2 separate regions of the Homo sapiens genome follow, and region 2 is linked to region 1. The links come from fine-mapping of genetic effects on gene expression. Tissue or cell type: whole blood. Region 1 holds a variant in brackets; the other region holds the start of a gene. All regions are shown on one strand. Distances are from middle to middle. Region 1 has its middle 4.7 kb from the start of GHRL. Region 2 holds the start of SEC13 (SEC13 homolog, nuclear pore and COPII component).

Evidence for each region. PIP is the estimated chance that this variant, and not a neighbour inherited with it, causes the effect.
Region 2: SEC13 starts here. The variant in region 1 is fine-mapped to the expression of SEC13 in whole blood (INTERVAL, PIP above 0.99).

What each region holds. Positions count from the first base shown.
Region 1 is chr3:10,296,224-10,299,128 of GRCh38, forward strand. No RefSeq gene overlaps it. Among named protein-coding and RNA genes, the nearest start is that of GHRL, 4.7 kb to the left of the region's middle. The variant C/T (reference allele first, on the strand shown) is at 1,230.
Region 2 is chr3:10,319,618-10,322,522 of GRCh38, forward strand. It overlaps SEC13 (SEC13 homolog, nuclear pore and COPII component), which reads right to left and starts at 1,495. Exons shown (of 9, transcript NM_183352.3): 1 at 1,433-1,495. The coding sequence starts at 1,435. RefSeq lists enhancers at 1,161-1,460, 1,208-1,803 and a silencer at 1,651-1,730.

The DNA.
Region 1 (2,905 bases):
GGTTTTTTTTTTTTTAATTTTTTCAGTACTTTAAAGATGTTAATTTTCTTATGGTTTGCCTACTTTCTGATGAGAAGTTGGCTGCTGCTCCTTTTTTTTTTTTTTTTTTTTTGAGACAGAGTCTTGCTCTGTCGCCCAGGCTGGGGTGCAGTGGCGTGATTTCGGCTCACTGCAACCTCCACCTCCCGGGTTCAAGCAATTCTCCTGCCTCAGCCTCCCGAGTAGCTGGGATTACAGGCACCTACCACCATGTCTGGCTAATTTTAGTAGGGATGGGGTTTCACCATCTTGGTCAGGCTGATCTCGGACTTCTGACCTCGTGATCCACCCGCCTCAGCCTTCCAAAGTGTTGGGATTATAGGCGTGAGCCACGGCGCCTGGCCTGCTGCCACTCTTATATTTGTTCTTCTGGATGGAATGTCTCTTTTTTTTCTGGTTGCTGGGAACATGGGCTATTCCCACCCCTATGTGAGCTCCAGCTGCTTGGTCTATTGGTTTCACCCTTCATATATGAAGGTTAGTACTTGTCCAAAGACTCCAGGAGACTCTTCAGCTCTCAGGAGCTTGCTCTGTGCAGCTTCCTCCTCTCGTCCTCTTCTGCCTTCAGTTCTGCCTTGGTCTTTTTTGTTTGTTTGTTTGTTTTTTGAGACAGAGCCTTGCTCTTTCGCCCAGGGCAGAGTGCAGTGGTGTAATCTTTGCTCACTGCAACCTCCGCCTCCCTGGTTCAAGCAATTCTCCTGCCTCAGCCTCCCGAGTAGTTGGGATTACAGGGGTGCAACACCACGCCCGGCTAATTTTTGTATTTTTAGTAGAGACAGGGTTTCACCATGTTGGCCAGGCTGGTCTCGAACTCTTGATCTCAGGTGATCTGCCCGCCTTGGCCTCCCAAAGTGCTGGGATTACAAGCGTGAGCCACCGCGCCCGGCCTGCCTTGGTCTTCCTGAACTCTGACTTCTGTCTCTTCAACTCCTGGAGACTACTAGACTCTGGAGTCTCTCTTTACCTTTTGGCCCAGAAACTGCTTCTGGGTAGTAGTAACCTGGTGCATTTGTTGTGCTTACCTGTTTCCCTTTTCCCAAACACTGCCTGTTGTCCTATGTCTGAAAGCAGTAGTTGTTTCATGTACTTTTCATGATTTCCTAGTTGTTGTTTTTTTTTTAAATTTATTATTTTATTTTATTTTATTTTTTTATTTTATTATTGTTATACTTTAAGTTTTAGGGTACATG[C/T]GCACAATATGTGGGTTAGTTACATATGTATACATGTGACATGCTGGTGTGCTGCACCCATTAACTCGTCATTTAGCATTAGGTATATCTCCTAATGCTATCCCTCCCCCGTCCCCTCCCCCCACAACAGTCCCCAGAGTGTGATGTTCCCCTTCCTGTGTCCATGTGTTCTCATTGTTCAATTCCCATCTATGAGTGAGAATATGCGGTGTTTGGTTTTTTGTTCTTGCGATAGTTTACTGAGAATGATGATTTCCAATTTCATCCATGTCCCTACAAAGGACATGAACTCATCATTTTTTATGGCTGCATAGTATTCCATGGTGTATATGTGCCACATTTTCTTAATCCAGTCTATCATTGTTGGACATTTGGGTTGGTTCCAAGTCTTTGCTATTGTGAATAGTGCCGCAGTAAACATACGTGTGCATGTGTCTTTATAGCAGCATGATTTATAGTCCTTTGGGTATATACCCAGTAATGGGATGGCTGGGTCAAATGGTATTTCTAGTTCTAGATCCCTGAGGAATCGCCACACTGACTTCCACAATGGTTGAACTAGTTTACAGTCCCACCAACAGTGTAAAAGTGTTCCTATTTCTCCACATCCTCTCCAGCACCTGTTGTTTCCTGACTTTTTAATGACTGCCATTCTAACTGGTGTGAGATGGTATCTCATTGTGGTTTTGATTTGCATTTCTCTGATGGCCAGTGATGATGAGCATTTTTTCATGTGTTTTTTGGCTGCATAAATGTCTTCTTTTGAGAAGTGTCTGTTCATGTCCTTCGCCCACTTTTTGATGGGGTTGTTTTTTTCTTGTAAATTTGTTTGAGTTCTTTGTAGATTCTGGATATTAGCCCTTTGTCAGATGAGTAGGTTGTGAAAATTTTCTCCCATTTTGTAGGTTGCCTGTTCACTCTGATGGTAGTTTCTTTTGCTGTGCAGAAGCTCTTTAGTTTAATTAGATCCCATTTGTCAATTCTGGCTTTTGTTGCCATTGCTTTTGGTGTTTTAGACATGAAGTCCTTGCCCATGCCTATGTCCTGAATGGTAATGCCTAGGTTTTCTTCTAGGGTTTTTATGGTTTTAGGTCTAACGTTTAAGTCTTTAATCCATCTTGAATTAATTTCCTAGTTGTCTATAGTGTGAGGGAAATTCTTATTTATTATTAAAGAGACAGGCTCTTGCTGTGTTGCCCAGGCTGATCTCAAACTCCTGGGCTCAAGAGATCCTCCTCCCTCAACCTTCCAAAGTGCTGGCCACTGCGCCCAGCCAGGGAAATTTTTTTTTTTTTAGACAGAGTCTCACTCTCTTGCCCAGGCTGGAGTGCAGTGGTGCAATCTCGGCTCACTGCAACCTCCACCTCCTGGGCTCAAGCGATTCTTGTGCCTCAGCCTCCTGAGTAGCTGGCACTACAGAGGCACACACCACTGCACCTAATTTTTGTATTTTTAGTAGAGATGGGGTTTTGCCATGTTGGCAGGCTGGTCTTGAATTTCTGGGCTCAAACATTCCGCCCGTCTTGGCCTTTCGAAGTGTGGGATTACAGTTGTGAGCCACCATGTTGGCTGGGAAATTCTTACAATCGTTAATCCTTTATATGCAGAAGTGGAAGGTCTCCCCTTAGTGTTTCTGGGCTCACTTGTAAATGGAAGCCTGTGAATCTTCTAGTTTT
Region 2 (2,905 bases), 23 kb after region 1:
TAAAGCTGCGGTTAAGTAGGTTCACGAAGAAAGTTTACTGAGAGGTAGTTTCAACCAGGTTACCAAAGGACCTTAGAAATAATCAGCATTTAATTCTAACCACTCTCACCCACCAGTCAGGGTTGATGAACCACACTTCTGAATGAGAGAGAGAGAGAGAGAGAGAGAGAGAGAGAGAAGGCGGGGGGGGGGGGGGGGGAGGAAAGAGGGAGGGGGAGAGAAAAGGACGGAAGGAAGGAGGAAGGGCGGGAGAGAAAGGGAGAGGGAGAGGAAGGGGGGAGGAAGAGGGAGCGGGGAGAGAGAGAGAGAAGAGAGGGAGGGGGAGAGAGAGAAAGGGAGAGGGAGAGGAAGGGGGGAGGGAGAGGGAGTGGGGAGAGAGGGAGGGTGGGGAGAGAGAGAGAGAGAGAGAGAACTTCTTAGAGTACTTCTTCCCAGGGACCTGGTATTATCTGGTCCCTGTTAACACCTGCACTCAAAATAATTCACCTCTTTGAGATCAGATAATGAGTTAAAAATTCATTTAGGATGAGCTGAATGTCAGAGCATAAAAGCCTCAACTCTAACCTGCAGTGGAAGAGCCAGAGGTGAGTGATTTACACCTAACCCTCTGCAGAACAAGAACACAGTGTTCTGATTTCTAGGTTCCTGCAGGTTCCCTCAAACCTGCTGCTGAGACACACCCATGTTTCTAAAAGAATGCATGTACTAGATATTCCAGGCTCAGCCCAGATACTTCCATTCTTTAGTTCTCCTTCAGTCATTCATTCACTCAAGGAGTAAGTGTGGAGTGAATGTACACTGCAGATGCCACAGAGACTTAAAAAACCCTGAGCCCCTGCCTTCGGAGGGTCGTTCAGGCCATCTTTACGTTTCCCGAGGTGCCCATCCTACCTGGGGGCCCTACCCCGAGCAACAGTTCAATCATCTCTGCTGGGAGCTGCAGTAGGCGGCAGAAAGGAATGGTTAGGAGGGTTCAAATCTCGGCTCTACTACCACTTAAGCAGCTGTGCAAGAGGCTCCACGTCTCCGAACCTCAAGTGTCCTCATCTGTAAAGTGTTGAGAAGAATAGCACCTTCTTCACAAGGCTGTTAGCAGGCGGAGATTACGAACAATGCTGAGGGCTCGGTATACAGTAGCTCCTCTGCTGTTCCTCGTTTTGTTTTCAATTGTTGACCGAAAAGAAGGAAGGGAGACTGGCAGGAGACGCAGGAGCGGCGCGCCCCGCAAAGTCAGGGAGGTTCCTCGGCCTCACCTCTGGACTCCCCTCGGAATGGTCCGCAAGGACGGGGCCAGAGCCCCCCAAATCTCTAAGCGGTGGAGGGGAGCTGAACGGCTCCAGCTTGGGATTTGGGACTCAGGACGGCCGAGGAACCCGTGAAGGCCGCGACCGTGGCCTTCACCCTGCTAGGCCTCCTCAGTACCAACACTCACCATGATTGCGGCGGTGGCTGCTCCAGGTCTCGGACGTGGCAGCTCCCGGCGGCGCCTCGGAACAGCTCACTTCCGGCGCCGGGCCCGACGGGCCGTGGCGTAGGAGCCTCCGGGCAGCAACGCGCTCGGCTCGCACAGCAGTTCCGCGCCTTCCAGAGGGCGCGCCCCGCCCTCCCGTGGCCCAGCCCCTATCCTCCAGTGACGTGCGAGACCAGAGGGCTGGGGCTCTGGTTGCCGCAGTTACCCTGACCCGGAGGGCTTTGGAATCTGAAGCTCTGGTGGGTCTACTCTCCCGACCAAGTCTGCCCTTTTCCTGAGATCCATAAATGAAAGAAAGGATTAATATAACTATCGGCCGGGCGCGGTGGCTCATGCCTGTAATCCCAGAACTTTGGGAGGCTGAGCTGGGGGGTGGATCACCTGAGGTCAGGAGTTCGAGACCAGCCTGGCCAACATGGTGAAACCCCGTCTCTACCAAAAATACAAAAATTAGCCGGGCATAGTGGCGCGCGCCTGTAGTCCCAGCTACAGGCTGAGGCAGGAGAATCGCTGGAACCCGGGAGGTGGAGGTTACAGTGAGCCGTGACTGCACCATTGCACTCCAGCCTGGGCAACAGAGAGACACTCTTGTAAAAAAGAAAAAAATCTATCTATCTATCTATCTATCTATCTATCTATCTATCTATCTATCTATCATCTATCTATCTGCAGCTTCACCCGCCTCACTACGGCTCTGGGTGCGACTGGTCTTATGATGAATGTTGTAGGATGAGTGACATCTTAGGAGTAAGTAGACTGTCCTAGTGCTTCCTTGTTGTAGTCTCCCTCTCAGTACCCAAGGACTGGGACCAGGGCAGAGGAGGCCAGGGAATGCCCCTCGCCAGAGGCTGGGACCTCTGGCCCTGCCATCCCTAACCCCTATATAGGACTGCCCCTTCCAAACCGATCCCCTGGGGTCCTGAGTAAGTCCCATCAAGGAGACCCCCCTAGGCAATGAAGGATCTCAGCCAGGCTCCTGCAGCTAGAGCCCCAGACCTAATCCTCAGGGTCCCCAACCCCAGGTCTCTGGCTTCACAAGGTAGGGCAGCTGAAGGCTCCCCACAAGCGCAGTGAGAATGCCACACTGGAGGACAGAGCCTGGGCTCCCCGCCTCAGCCACATATGGTCTAGCCCTGGGCCCCTTGTGACATTAAGGAGGCAGATGAGCTGGGGGAGGCCTTGGCTCCCCTTGGGCAAGTCACAGTCCTTCAGTTTCCTCTGCTGAAACTGGGAGTAAGGACCCTAGCTGGAGATGGTCACTGCTTGAAGGAAGATGTTAAGGCTCAGAGAATGTGATAGACCCAAACTGTCAAGGAGCTTTGGAGGGGAGGCCAGGGGAGTAGGGTGTTAGAATTAAGGGCCAGGCCTCTGGGCAACTCTTCTACCCCACTGCAGCTTTCAAGATTTTTTATTGCCCTCTAGTGGAGAAATTGT